7 linked regions of the Homo sapiens genome follow. The protein of the gene in region 1 purifies or fractionates together with the protein of each later gene. This does not show direct contact. Each region holds a gene or a part of one and is shown in the gene's direction. Other genes may lie near its edges. The genes, in order: KPNB1, KIFC1, POM121C, RANGAP1, TSR1, USP1 and NCBP1.

Region 1 (3,500 bases):
CTTTCTTATATTTTTATTGTGCTTTTCCTATTTGAGAACAAATTATTCTTTGTGTGATTTTCTGAAACTGCATAGGCAACCTGCCTTAAGTTTACTATGTGGTGTGAATGGCCACAATTAGGAAGCTATACCTTGGATTCTAACTTAAGAGGAGATATTAGTGGAATCTTTTCTTTTTTGAACTTTTGTGGTTTTGGTTTTTGGTTTTTTGGGGTGGCGTTGGGGGGTACAGAGTCTTGCTCTATCACCCAGGCTGGAGTGCAGTGGGGCGGTCTTGGCTCACTACAACCTTCATCTCCCTGGTTCATGTGATTCTCTTGCCTCAGCCTCCCGAGTAGCTGGGATTAACAGGTGTGTGCCACTATACCCAGCTAGTCTTTGTATTTTTAGTAGAAACGAGGTTTCACCATGTTTACCAGGCTGGTCTCGAAGTCCTGACCTCAAGTGATCTGCCTGCCTTGGCCTCCTAAAGTGCTGGGATTACAGGCATGAGCCACTGCACTGCACCTTGCCTCTTTTTTGAACTTTTGATTGAATCATGTCTTCTTCCCAGTCATGAAACTCCCTTACTTTCCTGGTCTTTTATTCCATAGGTTAATTTTTGTTGATTTTGGACTTTATTTATTATTATTTTTAATACTATGTTTTTTTTTTTTTCTGACAGAGTCTCACTCTGTTACACAGGCTGGAGCACAGTGGCACAATCTCGGCTCACTGCAACCTCCGCCTTCCAGGTTCAAGCAATTCTCCTGCCTTGGCCTCCTGAGTAGCTGGGACTACAGGCACGTGCCACCACACCCAGCTAATTTTTGTATTTTTAGTAGAGATGGGGTTTCACCATGTTGACCAGGCTGGTCTCAAACTCCTGACCTCAGGTGATCCACCCACCTTAGCCTCCCAAAGTGCTGGGATTACAGGCATGAGCCACCGCGCCTGGCCGATTTTGGACTTTACATAACTGGAATCATACAGCATACATTCTAGTTCTGTATTTTGTTCTAAATGTTTGGAATTCATTCTTTTTGGATGTAGTTGAAATTTTTTCATTCTTGTTGTGTAGTACTAAATGGAATCTTCTTCCATCTGAATCTTGTTTAACAAAGGCTATGCTGTGATGAATGTTTGTGGAAGAGACAAAATATAAAGGTCTTATATTTTATTTCCCTGGAGTTTAAGTTCTAAAGACATTCAAGAGTAGTCAGAGGACCTTTAGAGTTAAAATGATTCTTTGGACAAAATCTTAACTAGTGCCATATTCTTTCACCAGGACGAAAATGATGATGACGATGACTGGAACCCCTGCAAAGCAGCAGGGGTGTGCCTCATGCTTCTGGCCACCTGCTGTGAAGATGACATTGTCCCACATGTCCTCCCCTTCATTAAAGAACACATCAAGAACCCAGATTGGCGGTACCGGGATGCAGCAGTGATGGCTTTTGGTTGTATCTTGGAAGGACCAGAGCCCAGTCAGCTCAAACCACTAGTTATACAGGTGAAACTGAGGGATTTTTGGAGTAGAAAGTAGGATATTTATTGTTTAAACTTAAAGCATATCTTTATTTTTCAAAACAAAACTGTAAATTGTCATCTACAAAGATTATCTCTAGATACTTGTTTACTTTTAATGAGGGTAAAATATATTTCTTAGGTTTTTAATTACATAAGTCAGCATGATCCAGAGACATGTGAAAGAAGCCAAAAGAGAAAAGTCATCTTTAATTTCATTGCCCAGAAATACCACTCTTAACTCTGTATTTATCCTTGAAGCTTTTTCCTATGTGCATGTGTGTGCAACAGGCTCTTCCTGTGCAGATTGTTTTATAACTTGTTTCTTCATTTAATACTATGTTGTAAACATTTCCCAATAATTTTTTTTTGCACCTAGCACTGATTCCCCATAATTTTTAATAATGGCATTATTATTCTATTCTTTGGACAAAATGTCCTTTATGTAATGAAAATGTTCTTATGGAAATGTTGTGCTTGTTTTGCTATTACAAGTCGTGCCATTGCACTCCAGCCTGGGCAACGAGCGAAACTCTATCTCAAAAAAAAAAAAAAGAGTTTGTTATAGTTGAGTTTAGTGCTTAAAGAATTCAGTCTTCAGTCTTTCTGGATATAGCCAGATGCCATCATAGCTGCATCCTGAGAATTCTGAGTATCTGAGTAATTCTTTTTTTTTTTGAGGTAGGGAGGCGGGGGGATGGAGTCTTACTCTGTCACCCATGCTGGAGTGCTGAAGTGCAGTGGTGCAATCTAGGCTCACTGCAACCTCCAGCTCCCCAGCTTAAGCAATTCTCGTGCCTCAGCCCCCTGAGTAGGTGGGACTATGTGCCACCATGCCCAGCTAATTTTTGTATTCTTAGTAGAGAGACCGGGTTTCATCATGTTGGTCAGGCTGGTCTTGAACTCCTGACCTCAAGCAACTCCTGACCTCAAGTGATCTGCCTGCCTCAGCCTCCCAGAGTGCTGGGATTACAGGCATGAGCCATCATCATGCCCGGCCTCTATCTGAGTAATTTATTGCAGACTACTAAAAGCATTTACACCAAATTCTTAATATAAAACTCTAAACTGGAGTTTTGAAAGATATTTTCAAATATTTTGAAAGATGTTTCACACCATGTCCTGTAAAATTACAGAAGTATCTTGGTGACTTTTTTGAGTTAAGCCATCCATCAGTATTTCTTTCTCTGGGGTAGTAGTTAACATGAATTTTAATCTTTGTTTTGCTTTGCTAATAACTGTTATATTTTCAGGCTATGCCCACCCTAATAGAATTAATGAAAGACCCCAGTGTAGTTGTTCGAGATACAGCTGCATGGACTGTAGGCAGAATTTGTGAGCTGCTTCCTGAAGCTGCCATCAATGATGTCTACTTGGCTCCCCTGCTACAGTGTCTGATTGAGGGTCTCAGTGCTGAACCCAGAGTGGCTTCAAATGTGTGCTGGGTAAGGGATTTTCTTGCTGGTGAGAAAAGGAGCTTGCCTGCGCCACTGGCAAGAAAGTAGAAGGTGTGGGAGAGAAATCAATCTGCCTCACTGGAATGCTTTTTCTGATTTTCTTTCTAATTTATTCAATTAAAATGTGGGGGAGATTCCAACTGCAAGAGCCAGTGGGAACACTTGACTTATGGTTACTGGTTCCTGAACCACTTAGAACAGTCATGGTAACCCAGTGGGGAAACTATCTGGACTTGGGTTGCTTTCTTGAATTGCTTGGGGACAAGAAGTTTTGATTAAGGTAGAGAGTTTTTGGCTGTAAGAAGTATCATTGCTGAGTAGAGGGCAAGAGGGAAGGAAGGTAGGCAGCCTAAATGCTGAGTCAGTATAGGCTAATGTAATTGGTTAAGGGGAGGAAGTTCAAATAAGGAAGGAATGGGGCTAAACGTCTTTCTGTGAAAGGAAACAGAAATGAAATGGCAGGTATGGTTGAAAGTACTCTGCTGCTTAGAGAGTTGTCAGATTATCAAACAGGATGATGAGAGATGTCAGATTATC
Region 2 (3,500 bases), on another chromosome or scaffold:
TCCGGAGTAGCTGGGACTACAGGTGCCCGCCACCACGCCTGGTTAATTTTGTTTTTGTATTTTTAGGAGAGACGGGGTTTCACCGTGTTAGCCAGGATGGTCTCAATCTCCTGACCCCTTGATCTGCCCACCTCGGCCTCCCAAAGTGCTGGGATTACAGGCGTGAGCCACAGTGCCTGGCCTGGAATGCCTTTTGAATGACATGCCTGAGGCTGTTTTATAGTTAACTGTTTTTGCAAATAGAAGGAGTATACCCTAAAATAACAATAAAAAGTACAGTACGGTAAATATATAAACTAGTAACATAGTCATTATCATTATTAGGTATTATGTACTATATGTAATTATATGTGTTATACTTTTATACAACTGGCAGTGCATTAGGTTCGTTTATATCAGAATCACCACAAACAGGTGAGGAATGCTATGACATTACCATGGCTATAATGTCACTAGGCAATAGGAATTTTTAGCTCCATTATAATGTTACGGGGCTACTGTTGTATATGCAGTCTGTCATTGACCGAAATGTCATTATGGGCACATGACTGTATTAACATAGCATTTACATTGTGTTAGATATTATAAGTAATCTAAAGATGATTTAAAGTATATGCGGCTGGATGTGGTGGCTCACGCCTGTAATCCCAGCACTTTGGGAGGCTGAGGCAGGCAGATCACCTGAGGTCAGGAGTTTGAGACCAGCCTGGCCAACATGCTGAAAACCTGTCTCTACTAAAAATACAAAAAAAAAAAAATTAGCCAGGCGTGGTGGCGCTTGCCTGTAATCCCAGCTACTCAGGAGGCTGAGGCAGAAGAATTGCTTGAACCCTGGAGGTGGAGGTTGTAGTGAGCTGAGATCGCGCCATTGCATTCCAGCCTGGGTGAGAAGAGTGCAACTCCATCTCAAAAAAAAAACAAAATGGAGGCCAAGGCAGGCAGATCACCAGAGGTCAGGAGTTTGAGGCCAGCCTAATCAACATGGTGAAACCCCGTCTTTACTAAAAATACAAAATTAGTTGGGCGTGGTGGCGCATACCTATAATCCCAGCTACTCGGGAGGCTGAGGCGGGAGAATCGCTTGAACCCTGGAGGTAGAGTTTGCTGTGAGCTGAGATCATGCCATTGCACTTCAGCCTGGACAACAAGTGAAACTCTGTCTCAGTCAATCAATAAATAAAGTATATGGGAGCGTGTGCATAGACTATATTTAATACTATATACCTATTTATGTAAGGGACTTGGGCATCCTTGGATTTTGGTATTCTTGGGGGGTGCTGGAATCAACCCCTTTTGGATACTGAGGGATGACTGTAATTTCTGGTTCTAGGGGAGGTATCATTAGGAGCTGGCCAGACTTAGGGATAAGGGAAGGAAGTTATCCTATTTCTAATTCTGAGAAAAGCACTTCTTCTGCCCCTGTCCTAGCAAGTGTACATGCCATCTTAAGAATGATCATTCTACCTTTGCTCTCTCCCATCTCCTGGGCAGCTCAAAAAGTTTCCAAGAAGACAGGACCCCGGTGTTCCACAGCTATTGCCACAGGTAACTGTGCTCAAGAGCTGGGTCTGAGAAGGGATTTGGGGTATGTGTAAAGGGAGAATGATGGAGGTGGAGGGACACTGGTCCTGTAATTCCTAAGTCACCTCCTCAATTCTGTAGGGTTGAAGAACCAGAAGCCAGTTCCTGCTGTTCCTGTCCAGAAGTCTGGCAGTAAGTGACAAACATAACCACTGGGTGAGAGGCTGGGATAGGGAAGAGAAGATGGTGAGTGACCAGAAAAATCCATTTGGTCTCTAAGGGGAAGGAGATGTAGCATCAGGTGTGGATCCCATAAAGGCTAGAAGGGAGGAGGGATAGAGAGCCTAGACTTCACTGACCTTTGTCCTTTCTGTGTTCATCTTAGCATCAGGTGTTCCTCCCATGGCAGGAGGGAAGAAACCCAGCAAACGTCCAGCCTGGGACTTAAAGGGTCAGTTATGTGACCTAAATGCAGAACTAAAACGGTGCCGTGAGAGGACTCAAACGTTGGACCAAGAGAACCAGCAGCTTCAGGACCAGCTCAGAGATGCCCAGCAGCAGGTCAAGGCCCTGGGGACAGAGCGCACAACACTGGAGGGGCATTTAGCCAAGGTACAGGCCCAGGCTGAGCAGGGCCAACAGGAGCTGAAGAACTTGCGTGCTTGTGTCCTGGAGCTGGAAGAGCGGCTGAGCACGCAGGAGGGCTTGGTGCAAGAGCTTCAGAAAAAACAGGTGGAATTGCAGGAAGAACGGAGGGGACTGATGTCCCAACTAGAGGAGAAGGAGGTAAGGGCCAGATTTTCACCAGATGTCAGCCCCGCTTTCCTGGCAGAGGTCATGCCTCCCCTCCCTTCCAGGTACCCCTCAAGTCTGGGCTGAGAACTCCTGAGCACCTATCTTTAGCAGTATAGGTGCTGCTGAAGATACCTCTCTCTTGACCTGTCTGCACCCCAGCCCACTCCTGACTGTCTTGCTTTCTGCCACGCTTCTTCCTACCCTTGACTGTTTGCAAAGCTCTCATTTAGATCTGTGTCTTTCTTAGTCCTCCATCCCTCTTTCTTTGGGTTCCCATCCTGATCACAAATTCCTGTGGTACTCTCTTTCCCTCCTCCCATGTCCACTTGACTCCTTCCTGGTGAGCACCAACTAGATTAAGTTATTTGCAGTCTCTTAAATGACTCAACTTTCACTTCTGGGCATTCTGCATATGTGCTTCCCTCTTTCTGGAATGTTCTTTGTATACTACATCCTTCCTTGGTTCACTCCTGTACTTCTGGGTGTCACCCTAGATATCATCTTCCTTGTGCTCCTCTTTGTGCTTGGACATACCCATAGCACTCCCTGTCTTAGTACCATGATTCCTTATTTTCTCATCTTTCTTTGTTTACCAGACTTTGAGGTCCTTTTGAGCAGGGACCTCACTTCCACCCACTCCATACGCCCCACAGTTTGTTCTTCTTCTTGGTTGCATCTTACCCTCTGTGTATGTTGTGTTCTCTTCTGGGCAGAGGAGGCTGCAGACATCAGAAGCAGCCCTGTCAAGCAGCCAAGCAGAGGTGGCATCTCTGCGGCAGGAGACTGTGGCCCAGGCAGCCTTACTGACTGAGCGGGAAGAACGTCTTCATGGGCTAGAAATGGAGCGCCGGCGACTGCACAACCAGCTGCAGGAACTCAAGGGCAACATCCGTGTATTCTGCCGGGTCCGCCCTGTCCTGCCGGGGGAGCCCACTCCACCCCCTGGCCTCCTCCTGTTTCCCTCTGGCCCTGGTGGGCCCTCTGATCCTCCAACCCGCCTTAGCCTCTCCCGGTCTGACGAGCGGCGTGGGACCCTGAGTGGGGCACCAGCTCCCCCAACTCGCCATGATTTTTCCTTTGACCGGGTATTCCCACCAGGAAGTGGACAGGATGAAGTGTTTGAAGAGATTGCCATGCTTGTCCAGTCAGCCCTGGATGGCTATCCAGTATGCATCTTTGCCTAT
Region 3 (3,500 bases), on another chromosome or scaffold:
ATTCTAGTAAAACCGTTTGTTTTTCACTTTTTGCCGTTAACGAAAAAGTAGCTTTACTTGCTAAGGGGAACTGTTGTGAGTGTATAAATTATACTTTGGCCTGTTGGTTAGCTTCTGATTTCCGTTTCTGATGTGGCATGGGAATTAAAATATCTTACGGCTAGAATCTTGTCTTTCATTATAGACCAGAGCAGATAATCAGCTCAACACTGTCGTCACCATCAAGTAATGCCCCAGACCCATGTGCAAAGGAGACTGTACTGAGTGCCCTCAAAGAGAAGAAGAAGAAAAGGACAGTGGAGGAAGAAGACCAAATATTCCTTGATGGCCAGGAAAATAAAAGAAGGTAACAGGCTCAGGAGAGTACTAAGCCAGTTTCCCGCTTGGACCCCTATGGGATGAGATGTAGACATTCCCGTAAAGATACAGAGGCCACGTCCAGTTTGTGAGCCTTCATAGGCCTCCTTCTTTGGCTTTCATGAGAGAACCTAATAACAAGGGTTTTAATGCTGTTCATTTCAAGGCACAGGTTAGATCGATGTCATAATTTACCTTTTCTGTGAGTAGCAGAGATAAGCTGACAGCTATTAGCCATGTTAGCCTCATGCTTCTGTAGAAACGTGTTAAAAGTTTATTTTCAAGAAAGAAGGCTCTAAGTCTTCCGGTCGGAATTTTGTGGTGTTCAGTTATTTGGGTAACCACCAGTTCTAGTGTCTTTTTTTTTTTTTTTTTGAGTTGGAGTCTGTCTCTGTCCCCCAGGCTGGAGTGCAGTGGCCCGATCTCAGCTCACTGCAAGCTCAGCCTCCCAGGTTCATGCCATTCTCCTGCCTCAGCCCCCCGAGTAGCTGGGACTACAGGCGCCCGCCACCATGCCCAGCTAATTTTTTTGTATTTTTAGTAGAGACAGGGTCTCACCATATTGGCCAGGATGGTCTCAAACTCCTGACCTCGTGATCCGCCCACCTTGGCCTCCCAAAGTGCTGGGATTACAGGCTTGAGCCATGGCGCCCGGCCCACCAGTTCTAGTGTCTTAATTGTGCTGAAGGAAATGCTTGGGAAAGAAAAATGAAAACTAGAGTTTGGTAGTTTTATCAATAATGAGATTAAAACCAATTTCCTGGCAGGGCAAGGTGGCTCACGCCTATAATCCCAGCACCTTGAGAGGCCGAGGCGGGTGGATCACCTGAGGTCAGGAGTTCGAGACCAGCCTGGCCAACATGGTGAAACCCCGTCTCTACTAAAAATACAAAAATTAGCTGGATGTGGTGGTGGGTGCCTGTAGTCCCAGCTACTCCAGAGGCTGAGACAGGAGAACTGCTTGAACCCAGGAGGCGGAGGTTGCAGCGAGCCGAGACCATGCCAGTGCACTCTAGCCTGGGTGACAGAGCGAGACTGTCTCAAAAAAAAAAAAAAAAATTCCTTATGTGGTTTGTAAAATAACCTAATGAAAATGGAATAGTTTTCTAATTACAGAAAGAAAAGAAGTTGAAGTGGGTGAGCATTTACTGAGCACCCACTGTGTATGAGACCCTACTGCAAGTACTGTGGATAGAGCAGTGGACAAGACAAAATCTCTGCTCTCATGGGACTCTTGAGGGAAACACCATTTTATAAGGCTGGGTATGGTGGTGCATGCCTGTACTCCTAACACTTTGACAGGCCAAGGTGGGAGGATCGCTGGAACCCAGGAGCTCAAGACCAGCCTGGGCAACATAGGGAGCCCTCGCCTGTACAAAAAATTAAGAAATTAGCCAGGTGTGGTGGTGCATACTTGTAGTCCCAGCTGCGCTGGAGGCTGAGGCAGGAGAATTGGTTGAACCCGGGAGGCAGAGGTTTGTTGCAGTGAGCCAAGATTGTGCTATTGCACTCCAGCCTGGGCAACAAGAGTGAAACTCTGTCTGAAAAAAAAAAATTTACCTTTCAGAAACTTAGGGATTTTAAACAACCATTTTCTGGTCTAGCATGGAATCTGTGCTCCATAGAGATAGTATAAGGTCCCAGAAATGTGAGAATACACTTTAAAGGGACAAACAAAGTCATGTCATTTCATTTGAGACTTTTTTGATTTGTCGCAGGCGCCATGATAGCAGTGGCAGTGGACATTCAGCATTTGAGCCCCTGGTGGCCAGTGGAGTCCCCGCTTCTTTTGTGCCTAAGTAAGTGCGAGTCCATCCAGATGAAATACCAACTGTTTGGAAAAAGGCCTGATCAGAGCTGTTGCCCTATAGATTTTCCTCTTTGTTTTTTGCATTGCTTAATTAGTTCAGGTTCATGTCTTTGAAATTAGGAATATTCTGAGTAACTTGTCACAATTAACTGCCTTCTGTCTAATTCCTTTTAATGTTCTTGCATTAATATGGATGAAATATGCTGAGACTAGAGGTTTTATAAATATATTTAATAACCAAGCACATACACAGAAGGATTGCAAAGTTTGTGCAGCGGATAAGACAGTATGAAACTTAAATGTTTAATTTCTACATGTCAGTTTAAAAACAAATTGGAGGAAGAATTGGGTGGAAAGGAAAGTGGCTCAAAAGTCTGTGTGGAAAGACTTAGGATAACTTAGATACCTCATCTGAGTCAGCAGTGTGATGTGGCCACCAGGAAAGCTAAAGTGCTCCTGGTCTGTGCTGTTAGAAGAAAGACTAGAATGAGGCAGGTATTCCTGCCTTCCGTAGTTCTGCTCACTGTCCGTGGAGCACTGTGGTCAGATCAGCGTACTGCACTGCGAGGGAGGATGTACACAAACGGAAATTCATTCCCAGTGAAGCAACGAAGATGTTAAGGAGATTTGCAACAGCCCAGAGGGGTGGTGGTGGATGATGGGGTTTTGGAGGTATGGAAGTATTAACCCAGAGGAGAAAAATCTCAGGAGGAATAAAGAAATAAGTGAGGGAAGGACAATGGTCTCCAAAAAACCAAAGGACTGTCCCTTGAAAGAAGCGAAATAACTTGCTCTGTTTGACTTCAAATAGGATCCGTGGGTGAAAGTTAGAGGAAATACATTGTAATCCACTGTGAGAATAAACTGGTTCATGGTTGACGTGGGTCACTCTAGGAGAGCGTTGTCTATATTGTAACAGGTTGGATGACTGTCCTACAGGAAAGATGCATAGGAGATTTCTGTTTCCATTGGAGGTTTAGAAAAATGATGGGTTCCTCTTAACTCTGATTTTTTTTTAACAGCTTTGTTGAGGTATAATTGACATAACTGTACTTGTTTAAAGCATGTGACATTTTGACACGCATACACCTGTGGAACCATCCCACCACTAAGATAATGAACATCCATGACCTCCAAAAGTTCCCACATGCCTGTAATCCCTCTCTTTAGTTCCACCCGTGTCCCCAGGCATCCACTGATCTGTCTTCTGTCACTGTAGATAGGTATGCATTTTCCAGAATATTCTATAAATCATACATTTAAGTTTTAAATATTTGGCTTTTCTTACTGACTTTGTCAGATAGATTTGGCCAGATTGTTAGCAGTAAAAATT
Region 4 (3,500 bases), on another chromosome or scaffold:
TGGGACTGCAGGCTCACACCATCACGCCTGGCTAATTTTTTTTTTTGAGACATAGTCTTGCTCTGTTGCCCAGGCTGGAGTGTGGTGGTGCAATCTCAGCTCACTTTAACCTCTGCCTGGGTTCAGGCAATTCTCATGCCTCAGCCTCCTGGGTAGCTGGGACTACAGGTGTGTACAACCATGCCCAGCTAATTTTCTTTTCTTTTTGTTTTTTTTTTGAGATGGAGTCGTGCTCTGTCACCCAGGCTGGAGTGCAGTGGTGCAATCTCGGCTCACTGTAAGCTCTGCCTCCCTGGTTCACGCCATTCTCCTGCCTCAGCCTCCTGAGTAGCTAGGACTATAAGCACCCACCACCATGCTCCGCTAATTTTTTGTATTTTAGTAGGGATGGGGTTTTACCATGTTGGACAGGCTGGTCTAGAACTCCTGACCTCAGGTGATTCGCCCGCCTCAGCCCCCAAAGTACTGGGATAACAGGCGTGAGCCACTGTGTCTGGCCTTCAGCCTATTTTTGTGTTTGTATTTTTATTATTATTATTTTTTTTGAGACGGAGTCTCGCTCTGTTACCCAGGCTGGAGTGCACTGGCATGATGTTGGCTCACTGCAGGCTCCGCCTCCTGGGTTCATGTCATTCTCCCACCTCATCCTCCTGAGTAGCTGGGACTACAGGCGCCCGCCACCACGCCCGGCTAATTTTTTTGTATTTTTAGTAGAGACGGGGTTTCACCGTGTTAGTTAGCCAAGATGGTCTCGATCTCCTGACCTCATGATCCTCTCACCTCGGCCTCCCAAAGTGTTGGGATTACAGGCGTGAGCCACCGTGCCCGGCCCCTTATTTTTGTATTTTTAGTAGAGACGGGGTTTTGCCATGTTGGCCAGGCTGGTTTTGAATTCTTGACCTCAGGTGATCCGCCCACTTTGACCTCGTTTATCACTTTTGATGCTTGCGTCACCCTTGTGGGAGATAGATTGGAATGTTGCTGTTTTATAAATGAGAAAAAGGAATTTAGGAGACTTTAAGTAACTTGACCAAGGTCACACATTTGATAAATAGCAGAGCTAGGATTTTCACAGAGGTTCAGTGAAATCCCTATTCCTGTGCTTCTAATTAGACATTGAGCTCCGTTTAGGAAACAGAGATTTGATGGCAAATGCCATTTATTGAACACCGTGTCAGATAAGGGTATTAAGTGCCAGATAAATAGTATCTCAGTTTATCTTCACAAAATCCTTTGAGATAGATTGCATTTCCATTTTGCAGATTGGAAAACTGAGGTTTAGGGAGGTGGTATGACATGCCTAAGGGCACAGCTTTAATGAGTAGAGCTGGGATTAGAACTCAAGTTTGGGCCAGGTGCGGTGGCTCACGCCTGTAATCCCAGCACTTTGGGAGGCCGAGGTGGGCAGATCACCTGAGGTCAGGAATTCCAGACCAGCCTGGCCAACATGGAGAAACCCTGTCTTTACTACAAATACAAAAATTAGCCGGGCGTGGTGGTGGACACCTGTAATCCCAGCTACTCTCCGGAGGCTGAGGCAGGAGAATCGCTTGAACCCGGGAGGCGGAGGTTGCAGTGAGCCGAGATGGCACCACTGTACTCCAGCCTCGGTGACAGAACGAGACTATCTCAAAAAAAAAAAAAAAAAACTCAAGTTTGGCTGGCTCTGAAATCCATCCAGTTAACTTCTTTACTCTCCCAGCACAGGCTGAATGTGGTGTCTCCCATTTTGTAAGTCCCCAGGGGTGCCCAGCTTACCCAGCTCCTAAGAAGCAGCAAATCTGGAATAGGAATGATATACCCAGGTAACTAAGTGAAGGCAAAATGTGAATATACTCTATGAAAACAAGTGAAAAGGCTCTGGGAAGTAAGGCAGGGAGAGGTCTCACTTTTACTTTAAGAGCACCCAGGAAGTCTTTTCATCCCTTGCCAAGGCTTGGCTGGCACTGACCAACCCTGAATCCCCTGGCATCTGGAAGTGAAGGTACCCGCATCAGTGAGCCATCCTTGGGTTCTGGCCCAACCAGGGAAACTTGGACCCACCTTGGACAACTTCTTAGGGAGCCCCTGCTAGGTTATAAGTCCTTTCTCAAGACCCTTCTTGACCAGAAGGTCAAGTTCAAACTTTATCTCCCATACCCATCTCTATCTCTTCCCTCCCACATGTCACCCTACTCCATCCTGTACCAGCCAGACTCAACTTTTTGTTTCATGTAAGTTTTGGTTTTGTTCAGATTATACAATTAATGCAGGTTTATTATAGAATACAGAAACATTCAAAGAACAGGGAAAAAATATATCCTCACTTTCGGCCGGGCGCGGTGGCTCACGCCTGTAATCCCAGCAGTTTGGGAGGCCGAGGCGGGCGGATCACGAGGTCAGGAGATCGAGACCATCCTGGCTAAAACGGTGAAACCCCGTCTCTACTAAAAACTACAAAAAATTAGCCGGGCGTAGTGGCGGGCGCCTGTAGTCCCAGCTACTTGGGAGGCTGAGGCAGGAGAATGGCGTGAACCCGGGAGGCGGAGCTTGCAGTGAGCCGAGATCCCGCCACTGCACTCCAGCCTGGGCAACAGAGCGAGACTCCGTCTCAAAAAAAAAAAAAAAAAAAAAAAATCCTCACTTTCATATAACCCCAGGGATATAACTACTATTACTTTCAGGGCATTTTATTTCTAACACAGTCTTTTTTTTTTTTTTTCTGAGAAACAGTCTCGCTCTGTAGCCCAGGCTGGAGTGCAGTGGCAAGATCTCGCTCACTGCTACCTCCGCCTCCTGGGTCCCAGTTCAAGCAATTATGCCTCAGCCTTCCGAGCAGCTGGGATTACAGGCATGCGCTACCATGCCCAACTAATTTTTGTATTTTTAGTAGAGACGGGGTTTACCATGTTGGCCAGGCTGTTCTTGAACTCCTGAACTCCTGACCTCACGATCCGCCCGCCTTGGCCTCCCAAAGTGCTGGGATTACAGGCGTGAGCCACCGCGCCCAGCCTAGTCTTTTTTTTTTTCCTGAACATAGCTGAGTTCATTTTGTTTTGTTTGTTTTTTGAAACGGAGTTTCGCTCTTGTTGCCCAGGGATTAGTGCAATGCCACGATCTCGGCTCACTGCAACCTCTGCCTCCCAGGTTCAAGCAATTCTCCTGTCTCAGCCTCCCTAATAGCTGGGATTACAGGCATCCACCACCACACCCGGCTAATTTTTGTATTTTTAGTTAGAGACAGGGTTTCATCATATTGGACAGGCTGGTCTCAAACTCTTGACCTCAGGTGATCCTCAGGCCTCAGCCTCCCAAAGTGCTGGGATTACAGGTGTGAGCCACTACTCCCAGCCCATTTTGTTTTTAATTGGGATTATATTATAGATCTTTTAAAAGCTGCTATATAACCTGATATATTGAGAACATTTTACTTCAAATAGTTAAAAACACACAATCACCCATTATCCTACCAGCTAGAGAGAACTGCTATAGCATTTGGTTTCTATGTTTCTAGACCTTGT
Region 5 (3,500 bases), about 45 Mb from region 1:
GGTATAGTTGAAAGTCTCTCCTCACCCTCAAATGCTGTATGTTTTCAATAAACAAACATTATACACAGTCTTGTTCCATTTCTCAAAATTACTTGTGTTAATGTTTTATCATGAACAGATAAACAACTTTGGATTCATTGCAGGGCTTATTTAGCTGTGTAAGTATTGCTAGTTGTGAGGCAGCTGAATTAAATTTGGAAGTAGTTCTATTTACAGTGTCTGCCAGAATTTCCCATGTTGGCAGCAGTATCTGGTGCCTTGCCTAGGTGAGAATAACCAGAGGGATAGGGAAAAGAAGTCTGTAATTTACTTAATTTGTTTGGGCTTTTACAGATTTCTTGAAGGAAAGTTCTAAGGTGGTAAAGAAGGTCCCCAAAGGAACATCCAGTTACCAAGCTGAATGGATTTTGGATGGTGGCAGCCAAAGTGGTGGGGAAGGAGATGAATATGAATATGATGATATGGAACATGAGGATTTTATGGAGGAGGAATCTCAGGTAAGGAAATGAGGCCTTAGGCCAATTCTGTGTCTAGCTCCAAATGTAAGGCAAAGTGCAGGTGTGATCTTGATGGGTGTGTGTGGTTAGTTTCTTTTTTTTATTTTTTTTATTTTTTTTTTATGAGACGGAGTCTTGCTCTGTTGCTCAGGCTGGAGTGCAGTGGTGCGATCTGGGCTCACTGCAAGCTCTCCCTCCTGGGTTCACGCCATTCTCCTGCCTCAGCCTCCTGAGTAGCTGGGACTACAGGCGCCCACCACCATGCCTGGCTAATTTTTTTGTATTTTTAGTAGAGACGGGGTTTCACTGTGTTAGCCAGGATGGTCTCAATCTCCTGACCTCATGATCCGCCTGCCTTGGCCTCCCAAAGTGCTGGGATTACAGGCGTGAGCCACCGCACCCGGCCGTGTATGGTTAGTTTCTTAGGAATGACTCTGTAGTTGCCAGGAATGAGGCTTTTGTTTTATACTTTAGACTGTATTAGAATTTATGTTGGTTGGGAATAGGGATCTAGTACAATTATTTTACTCTTAGCTTATTGGCCTTTGGGGTAGAGACAGGTGTGGATTTCTTCTGAAAAAACTGTAATCCTATTCTACAGGATGAGAGTAGTGAAGAAGAGGAAGAATATGAAACTATGACTATTGGGGAGTCTGTGCATGATGATCTGTATGATAAGAAAGTAGATGAAGAAGCTGAGGCAAAAATGTTGGAGAAATATAAACAAGAAAGACTGGAAGAGATGTTTCCAGATGAAGTGGACACGCCCCGTGATGTGGCTGCTCGAATTCGGTTAGTCAACAAGTCTATCAACAAATCTAAATTCAGTCAATACGTTTTTAAAAACTTGGCTCAGAGCTGTGTCACTGTGATGCAAAAGAAGAAAAACACATTTTTTCTGCTCCTGAAGAGCTAACATTTAATATGGGAAGGCAGGACATACATACGGGAAATGGTCATATGTAATTAAGTTCTAGACTGTGGTGCAGACTCACGTTACAGGACTTGAATGAAGGGGAAATACTAAGGTTAATTAGCAAATACTTCTTCCCAAAGGAGCCAGTACTCAATTGAAGTATATAATGTTTGGAAATTTTAGGGGGTTTGGGTAGAATAGCAGAAGTAGAAGAGTGAAGAAGTAGATGATTATATCTGTTCTGGAGGTGAGTGACTAAAGCCAGTGAATTAATTTTGGATATTAGGAGGTAAGGCTATGTATTAGGCCATTCTCGCATGGCTATAAAGAAGTACCAGAGACTGCATAATTTATAAAGAAAAGAGATTTAATTGGGTCATGGTCCTGCAGACTGTACAGGAAGCATGGTGTTGGCATCTGCTCAGCTTCTGGGGGTGTCCTCAAGAAACTTACAATCATGGCAGAAGGTGGAGGGGGAGCAAGTCATGTCACACGGCCAGCGCAGTAACGAGAGCAAGGCAGGAGGTGCTACACACTTTAAACAACTAGATCTCATGAGAACTCACTCAACAAGGAGGGTGGTGCTAACCCACTCATGAGAAAACCTCTCCCCTAATGCAGTCACCTCCCACCAGGCTCCACCTCCAACACTGGGGATTGTATTTCAGTATGAGATTGGGGCAGGGAGACACATCTGAACTGTATCAGGCCATTACCAAGCATCTTTTTTGTCAGTGAGAAGCTTGGGTTTGGTTCCGATAGAACTTGTTATAAGCTGTTCGGAGTGTCGTCTTGGTTTAAGCTGTTGGGTTGTTTGGAGAGAGGATGATTGGAGTTCTTTTCAGCTAGCTCCTTAGCCATTTTAGCAGTGACTTGAGTCTATATAGCACCATATAAATCTGACTTAATGTCTTTAAAAATCTTCAATATTCTAGATTTCAGAAATACAGAGGCCTTAAGAGCTTCCGGACATCTCCATGGGATCCTAAGGAAAACCTTCCTCAAGATTATGCTCGAATATTTCAGTTTCAGAACTTTACTAACACTAGGAAAAGCATCTTTAAAGAGGTTGAAGAAAAAGAGGTTGAAGGAGCTGAGGTATCTATCCTCCTTGTTCATCTTGTATGTTGCTTTCATTTGTCAACATGCTCCCTACTTTATTCCTTCTCTTGGCATGAAAATATGCTGCATTTGGGGATTAGGGGAGCCCCTGAGTCATTGATTAGAATGATACTGGGAACAAAGAGGTATCAGCTATGTTAAATGAAAAAGTGTGATCTGGGTAAATGAAGCATCTTGAAGGATGAGGGTTGGCTTTAAAAATTTTATCTGAGAGACTCAACATATTTGGAGAAAGCTTCCTCGCTATTGGGACTTTGAAAGGTAACTCCATGATTGCTTTCTGCTTTCTTGTGGCAGGTTGGCTGGTATGTCACACTTCATGTCTCTGAAGTCCCCGTCTCAGTGGTCGAGTGCTTCAGGCAAGGAACACCCTTGATTGCATTTTCTTTACTACCTCATGAACAGAAGGTAAATTGCTGTCTTGTGGGAAAATGGGGGGTTGTGAAACTTTCCAGCTGCTTCTGACAGTCTAAAATTCTGTTTATGTGTGACTAAAATTTTGCTCATTGGGATGCAAAAAGTCTGCCTTTATGATTAGGAATTGGAGAATAATAGAGAAGTCAATGATGGTTTTATTCATATCGTCTGAACCTGTCTGAAGCATCTCAGTGATGCAATCTCTGTGTGGTTCTGAGACTTCTCCAAGTATGTTTTTCAGACCAGATTTTGAATAAGGGTTGGCAGCCTTAAAAATAAAGGTTTGGCTGGGCGCGGCGGCTCACGCCTGTAATCCCAGCACTTTTTGGGAGGCCAAGGTGGGTGGATCACCTGAGGTCGGGAGTTCGAGACCAGCCTGACCAACATGGAGGAACCCTGTCTCTACCAAAAATACAAAATTAGCCAGGCGTGGTGGCACATGCCTGTAATCCCAGCTACTTGGGAGGCTGAGGCAGAAGAATTGCTTGAACCCAGTAGGCGGAGGTTGTGGTGAGCCAAGATTGCACCATTGCACTCCAGCCTGGGCA
Region 6 (2,628 bases), on another chromosome or scaffold:
GTGATCTGCCCGCCTCAGCCTCCCAAAGTCTTGGGATTACAGGCTTAAGCCACTGTGCCCGGCCTACAACTGACTTCTTTTAAAGACAGTAATTTCATAGTCAGTTTTATCTTTACAGGGACCTTAAATTTCATTAATAGGGTACCTCTAATAAGCTAATAATGCTAATAAGCTGATCTATGAAAATGGAACTGTTATTCATGATATACTTTATTTAAATGGAAAATTGGTTATTTGGACTATAATGAGAAACTAATCTGTATAGACTTACATTTTCCTATTTTCATTTTAGGTGAAGAACAAATTGGTTTTGAGCTAGTGGAGAAATTATTTCAAGGTCAGCTGGTATTAAGGACGCGTTGCTTGGAATGTGAAAGTTTAACAGAAAGAAGAGAAGATTTTCAAGACATCAGTGTGCCAGTACAAGAAGATGAGCTTTCCAAAGTAGAGGAGAGTTCTGAAAGTAAGCAAAATTGGAGTCTTGTGTGGACCATGATGGAATATTTATAATTCTTTAACAACACAAAGTTTAATAGTAGCTGGTGTAATTAGGGAGGGGAAAAAAGCTAGCTTTTAGTGTCTAATGTAACCTTTCTGCTTATCTGGCTTCACTTATAAATGGTTAGCATTTGGGAAATTGTGACATCTTGATTTTGATGTAGAGTGTGTTAGAATGGAAAACTGAAATGCTTTAATAAGTGTACTTTTGGGAACCTGAGTCTTTCAGAGCTACTGAGGGTTTTTTTTAATTTTTTTGAGATGGAGTCTTGCTCGGTTGCCCAGGCTGGAGTGCAGTGGCGTGATCTCGGCTCACTGCAAGCTCCGCCTTCTGGGTTCATGCCATTCTCCTGCCTCAGCCTCCTGAGTAGCTGGGACTGCAGGTGCCCACCACCACGCCCGGCTAATTTTTTGTATTTTTAGTAGAGACGGGGTTTCACCATGTTAGCCAGGATGGTCTCAATCTCCTGACCTCGTGATCCGCCCGCCTTGGCCTCCCAAAGTGCTGGGATTACAGGCGTGAGCCACCGCGCCTGGCCTACTGAGGTTGTTTTTAACACAATAATTGAGCCACTGTTGTGTCTAGAGCATACCACAAAATATGGAAATACCATAGGAAATAATCATGAGACAGGTTTACCTATCACATATTGAAAGTTGGCAATTAAATGTAAACAGACTAGGCTTATTTTGTTTTTGCTGTCTATCATATTTTTTGGCCGATCAAATATATTTAAAAGGTATGTATACTGTTGAGGATGCACTTATGAAAGTAGTTTCTGAAAGTAAAAATCTCTTTAGTTATTTAGGAATGGGTCGGTCAATTGAAATTAAATGCTAATTTTGAACCTGAAACTTTGTGGTTTATTTTTTGAATGCCTGAGAGAAGTATTTGAGTGAAAGGATTCTCTTTTTTAGTTTCTCCAGAGCCAAAAACAGAAATGAAGACCCTGAGATGGGCAATTTCACAATTTGCTTCAGTAGAAAGGATTGTAGGAGAAGATAAATATTTCTGTGAAAACTGCCATCATTATACTGAAGCTGAACGAAGTCTTTTGTTTGACAAAATGCCTGAAGTTATAACTATTCATTTGAAGTGCTTTGCTGCTAGTGGTTTGGAGTAAGTATTGTAAATAAGAACTATATGAAGAAAATGAGCTGCTGTAGAAGATAAGTCTTGTTCAAAATGCTGTAATAGTAGGAATATAAAGTACTGAAATGAAGTAGATTGTAAAGATTGCTTCAGTAAAGTTTTGTTCTTATTAACAGTTTCCCTGTAAAAATGAAACAACTTAAATCCTTTTGATATGAATACATATTCTATTAAGTATGATTTCTTCTCCTTTTTTTTTTGAAACAGGGTCTCATTCCAGTTGTCCAGGCTGGAGTGTAGTGGCACAGCCTCAGCTCACTGCAGTCTTGACCTCCCAGGCTCAGGTGGTTCTCCCACCTCAGCCTTCTGAGTAGCTGGGACTACAGGTGCATGCCACCATGCCCAGCTAATTTTTTGTATTTTTAGTAGAGACAGGATTTCACCATGTTGCCCAGTCTGATCTTGAACTTCTGGACTCAAGCAATCCACCTGCCTTAGCCTCACAAAGTGCTGGGATTACAGGCGTGAGCCACCATGCCCGGCCAGTTTCTTTATTCATCTTTTCATATTCATTCCCTCTTAGATGTTAGTAGCAGAATTCAGTAGAACTGACTAAAGCAGGGAACAAATTTTGTATACATCAAGATTTTTTTGAAGGGGCGGGAAAGGCTAAATTCTTCCTAGTTTTAAGGTAAGCCAGGAAATCAAACTAGTCTTTCAACAGTTTGAAAAAAAATGCTGATTGTTTTGGATAGTCTGTTTTTTTCTGACATGTGTAATGTCATTGTATGTGTGACTCCTTTGTACATTAGTTGCTTGTTTGAAATTACCACGAGGGCTTCACAGTAGCTCTCTCACACTTGATTATGTCAAAAGATAACATATAGCCCCTTATTCAGTGGACCTTCCCTTTGCTAATAGTATAAAATACTATTTTATTTACTTTCCCAAATTTTGGTAGAGAAAAACTTCACACTAAAAATGACTAAAATGGGCTGGGCGTGGGTGGCTCACACCTGTAATCCTAGCACTTTGGG
Region 7 (3,500 bases), on another chromosome or scaffold:
GTGAGCTGGGGGCAGGGATTATTAAAGCTTTACAGGAGTATATTGAGCCCATCATTGCCAGCAGAAAGTCTTAAACAGCCCACTTTGAATTATTATATGTCGGCTGGAGCCATTTCTAAATTATAACAAGAATGAGCAGCCTTGGCCCATAGGACTTGCCCAGTTTTTCTGTATGGCCCATTAGCAGATGAATGATTAGCAAGCTGTCTCCCTGTTGTTACTGCTCAAATGGTCAAATAGTGATAAATTGTAGCCAAGTCCCCCCATGTTGTTACCAAGACAAGTGCCACTAAATTTCCCTGGCCTAGATAAGAACCCATGGAATTTCTGAATGAGAAGACAGTGTCTCTGAACCACAACAGGACTTTGAGGTATATATGTGTGGGTGGCGGGGTGGGGGGGTACTTTCACTATAGAATATAAGTCTTAACATTTGGCCAGACACAGTAAAATGCTTCCCCTGGAGGAGATTTAACACACTGGAATCTAAATGGTATTTTCCTTTTGTTCATTTGCCTTCTATAGCGAAGTGATGATGACGACAGAAGCAGTGACAGGAAAGACGGGGTTCTTGAGGAACAAATAGAACGACTTCAGGAAAAAGTGGAATCTGCTCAGAGTGAACAAAAGAATCTTTTCCTCGTTATATTTCAGGTATCTTGGCTTGGGACATTTATACATAAAAGGAAACAATACATTTCTTTAGTTTTAGTTTTTAAAAATGTTATTTTTCATTGTAAAAGGAATACACATTCATTTATAGAAGAGATTAAAAATACAAAAATTTAGGAAGGAAATAAAAGTTCACTACTCAGAGGCAACCATGTATGTCTGAGTTTCTCTGCTGTTTACTTAGTATTCTCGCATGAGCATTTCTCCATGCTTGAAAAAAAATTGTGGGTTGCTTTTTTTATATATGTCTCGTTTAATTATTCCTCATTGCTGATCATTTTCCTTCCATGAACATTTTAATGCATAGATTCCTGTTAAAATTTCTGATTACTTCGTTAGAATAGATTCCAGGAAGTAATATTACTAGGATAAGTAATTTAAGACATTAAAGGTCTTTATGTATTGCCAGGAAGAATGTACCAACTCATGTTATTACCAGTCTGCCCTTCTAGGTTGACTTCATGAATAATGGAAGCTAGGCACACACACCACAAAGACAGGGTGGAACAGGCAATACTTTGGGGTTTCTTTGTCATGAATTTTTTTCCAAAGTATAAGATTCTGTCTGTAGTACTACCTTAACTTCTTCTCCCTTTCCAGCGGTTTATCATGATCTTGACCGAGCACCTAGTACGATGCGAAACTGATGGGACCAGTGTATTAACACCATGGTATAAGAACTGTATAGAGAGGCTGCAGCAGATCTTCCTACAGGTATGTGGGGAACTTCGATTAGGTAATAACACTATTCTCAGCCACAAAGATTTTTCATTAAAAAAAATCCTTGTCAAATTTGTTAGGAGGTTATATAGTACCTGTTAGACCCTTTAGTTCATGTCCATTTGCTGCTACCATTGCTCATCAGAATATTTAGGCTTAAACTGATTCTGTACCACTTAGATTCCTAATTGCCACCCCCCCAACAACCCCCCGCCCCACCTTTTTTTTGAGATGGCATCTCACTCTGTTGCCCAGGCTGGAGTTCAGTGACACGATCTCAGCTCACTGCAACCTCCACCTCCTAGGTTTAAGCAATTCTTCTGCCTCAGCCTCCCATATTGCTGGGATTACAGGCACCCGTCACTACTCCTGCCTGATTTTTGTATTTTTAGTAGGGACAGAGTTTCACCATGTTGGCCAGGCTAGTCTCAAACTCCTGACCTCAGGAGGCCTCCGCCTCCCAAAGTGCTGCTGGGATTATAGGCGTGAGCCACGGTGCCCAGTCTCCTAATTGTCATTTTCTATGCTGGGGATCCTAGCTGTAATATAAAATGTAGAGGACAAAAATATCAAGAGGACAGTAATTGGATTTATAAGTCCCTAAAAAGCCAGTGTTATCCAATGTGCAGGTGGTAAACTGTCCACAGAATCAAGGTAAGCTCCCTGGGGTCTCTCTGCAAAAGCAAAATGCCGGCACCTATTCTCACCTAGATTTAAGTTAAAGGTATATAGGAGAGTGGAGCTAATTCATTGTATCTTCGGACACTACTCCCCTAAATCTTCATTTGTTCATTCTAGAAGAATGATTAATGTAGAAGTCACTCTAAGTTCAATTCTTTGAGCCTCCAAATAGGAATTCCCTCTGATTTTATAGTTACTGCCAGTTTTAAAAGCTTTAACAGTCTCTAGTCCTATAAGAATCTCTGAGAGTATTCATGGCTTATAGAGGAACACATAGACAAGAGTATTTCGTTTTCTGACTGTTTATCTTCCTGTCAGTCCGTCTGGCTGCTTTTTAAAAAGTTACAATGTATTATGCCCTGACTGGGGAGAGAGCTAGCTGAGCCTAGTCCGTAATAGTACTAGGAGCAAGCAGGCACTGCTGCCACTGCCTTGAATCATGAATTCTGTTTACATAGAAGTTGGTAAGAACTGGATTTTTTAAAAAGCTATTGAGCATCCATTTTTTTCATTTCCCTTTTTATTTTTTTAATGTTGGGGATTTTCAGGGGTCCATTGTTCCTATCAGCACTTTTTTTTCCCCTTCCTCTTTTCATCATTCTGCAGCATGGGTGGGCTGCTGAAGGAAATGTTCCACAAGATTGCTTATATGCTTTTTCCTGACCTAACTACCCCCTTTTGTGTGTCCACAGCATCACCAAATAATCCAGCAGTACATGGTGACCCTGGAGAACCTTCTCTTCACTGCTGAATTAGACCCTCATATCTTGGCCGTGTTCCAGCAGTTCTGTGCCCTGCAGGCCTAAGGGTCATTTTTTCCTCATGTCAAGGTTTTTTTTGATATCTTAAAATAATTTGTCTTATTTTTTGATGGTTTGAATGCTTGCTTTCTTGTAGTATCCTTTCACTTCTTAAAGGAAACAAAGGGGAAGAGGACAGTGAATGAACATGGCATTACTTTTAATTGCCCTGAAAAGCAAATACTTCCTAACGGCAGTAATGTGACTATGACCATGATATATTATATATGTGACAGATACAAATTCTCTGTGATCAGTTTGTTATTTTTTTTCTCCTTAAGGCACAAAATAATTGGTTTGAGGTATGTGAAACACTAGAGGTCAACCTTACATAGTATATAGAACTGATGGGTTTACCCAGCTACCCAGTAGCATAACTTTTCACAGCTCGGGGATGAATTAACATGGCTGAAATAAAACTAAAAGTATGGTTTTTAAACTTTGGCATTTCATGATTTATCATCTCACTCTACTCTAAAACTGGTGGTTTCTTACTGAAGGTGTTCTCCATTTGAAATTTTATCTTCAAAGTATTTTTAAGTAGTATCTTTAAGACATGACTTGTTAGTAATAAAAGTGTTACTAGTTGGAAGAGTAGCTCTCAAATTTGTCTTAATGTAAATCACC

The links.
Region 2: the proteins of KPNB1 (region 1) and KIFC1 purify together in Homo sapiens (affinity purification with mass spectrometry; 2 studies listed by BioGRID and IntAct, with this or other methods). This does not show direct contact.
Region 3: the proteins of KPNB1 (region 1) and POM121C purify together in Homo sapiens (affinity purification with mass spectrometry; 2 studies listed by BioGRID and IntAct, with this or other methods). This does not show direct contact.
Region 4: the proteins of KPNB1 (region 1) and RANGAP1 purify together in Homo sapiens (affinity purification with mass spectrometry; 3 studies listed by BioGRID and IntAct, with this or other methods). This does not show direct contact.
Region 5: the proteins of KPNB1 (region 1) and TSR1 purify together in Homo sapiens (affinity purification with mass spectrometry; 3 studies listed by BioGRID and IntAct, with this or other methods). This does not show direct contact.
Region 6: the proteins of KPNB1 (region 1) and USP1 purify together in Homo sapiens (affinity purification with western blotting; 2 studies listed by BioGRID and IntAct, with this or other methods). This does not show direct contact.
Region 7: the proteins of KPNB1 (region 1) and NCBP1 purify together in Homo sapiens (co-immunoprecipitation; 2 studies listed by BioGRID and IntAct, with this or other methods). This does not show direct contact.

What each region holds. Positions count from the first base shown.
Region 1 is NC_000017.11:47,666,919-47,670,418, forward strand, and holds part of KPNB1 (importin subunit beta-1), read left to right. Parts: intron 1-1,267; coding exon 1,268-1,492; intron 1,493-2,759; coding exon 2,760-2,951; intron 2,952-3,500.
Region 2 is NC_000006.12:33,401,823-33,405,322, forward strand, and holds part of KIFC1 (kinesin-like protein KIFC1), read left to right. Parts: intron 1-1,491; coding exon 1,492-1,545; intron 1,546-1,662; coding exon 1,663-1,713; intron 1,714-1,906; coding exon 1,907-2,307; intron 2,308-3,029; coding exon 3,030-3,500. UniProt on the Homo sapiens protein: Minus end-directed microtubule-dependent motor required for bipolar spindle formation. May contribute to movement of early endocytic vesicles. Regulates cilium formation and structure.
Region 3 is NC_000007.14:75,437,800-75,441,299, reverse strand, and holds part of POM121C (nuclear envelope pore membrane protein POM 121C), read left to right. Parts: intron 1-184; coding exon 185-346; intron 347-2,075; coding exon 2,076-2,156; intron 2,157-3,500. UniProt on the Homo sapiens protein: Essential component of the nuclear pore complex (NPC). The repeat-containing domain may be involved in anchoring components of the pore complex to the pore membrane. When overexpressed in cells induces the formation of cytoplasmic annulate lamellae (AL).
Region 4 is NC_000022.11:41,276,188-41,279,687, reverse strand, and holds part of RANGAP1 (ran GTPase-activating protein 1), read left to right. Parts: intron 1-1,670; exon of another isoform or gene 1,671-1,792; coding exon of another isoform or gene 1,793-1,805; intron 1,806-3,500. UniProt on the Homo sapiens protein: GTPase activator for RAN. Converts cytoplasmic GTP-bound RAN to GDP-bound RAN, which is essential for RAN-mediated nuclear import and export. Mediates dissociation of cargo from nuclear export complexes containing XPO1, RAN and RANBP2 after nuclear export.
Region 5 is NC_000017.11:2,329,958-2,333,457, reverse strand, and holds part of TSR1 (pre-rRNA-processing protein TSR1 homolog), read left to right. Parts: intron 1-333; coding exon 334-497; intron 498-1,098; coding exon 1,099-1,289; intron 1,290-2,348; coding exon 2,349-2,511; intron 2,512-2,832; coding exon 2,833-2,943; intron 2,944-3,087; exon of another isoform or gene 3,088-3,179; intron 3,180-3,500. UniProt on the Homo sapiens protein: Required during maturation of the 40S ribosomal subunit in the nucleolus.
Region 6 is NC_000001.11:62,447,049-62,449,676, forward strand, and holds part of USP1 (ubiquitin carboxyl-terminal hydrolase 1), read left to right. Parts: intron 1-292; coding exon 293-463; intron 464-1,416; coding exon 1,417-1,618; intron 1,619-2,628. UniProt on the Homo sapiens protein: Negative regulator of DNA damage repair which specifically deubiquitinates monoubiquitinated FANCD2. Also involved in PCNA-mediated translesion synthesis (TLS) by deubiquitinating monoubiquitinated PCNA.
Region 7 is NC_000009.12:97,668,321-97,671,820, forward strand, and holds part of NCBP1 (nuclear cap-binding protein subunit 1), read left to right. Parts: intron 1-525; coding exon 526-654; intron 655-1,272; coding exon 1,273-1,386; intron 1,387-2,765; coding exon 2,766-2,879; 3' UTR 2,880-3,500. UniProt on the Homo sapiens protein: Component of the cap-binding complex (CBC), which binds cotranscriptionally to the 5'-cap of pre-mRNAs and is involved in various processes such as pre-mRNA splicing, translation regulation, nonsense-mediated mRNA decay, RNA-mediated gene silencing (RNAi) by microRNAs (miRNAs) and mRNA export.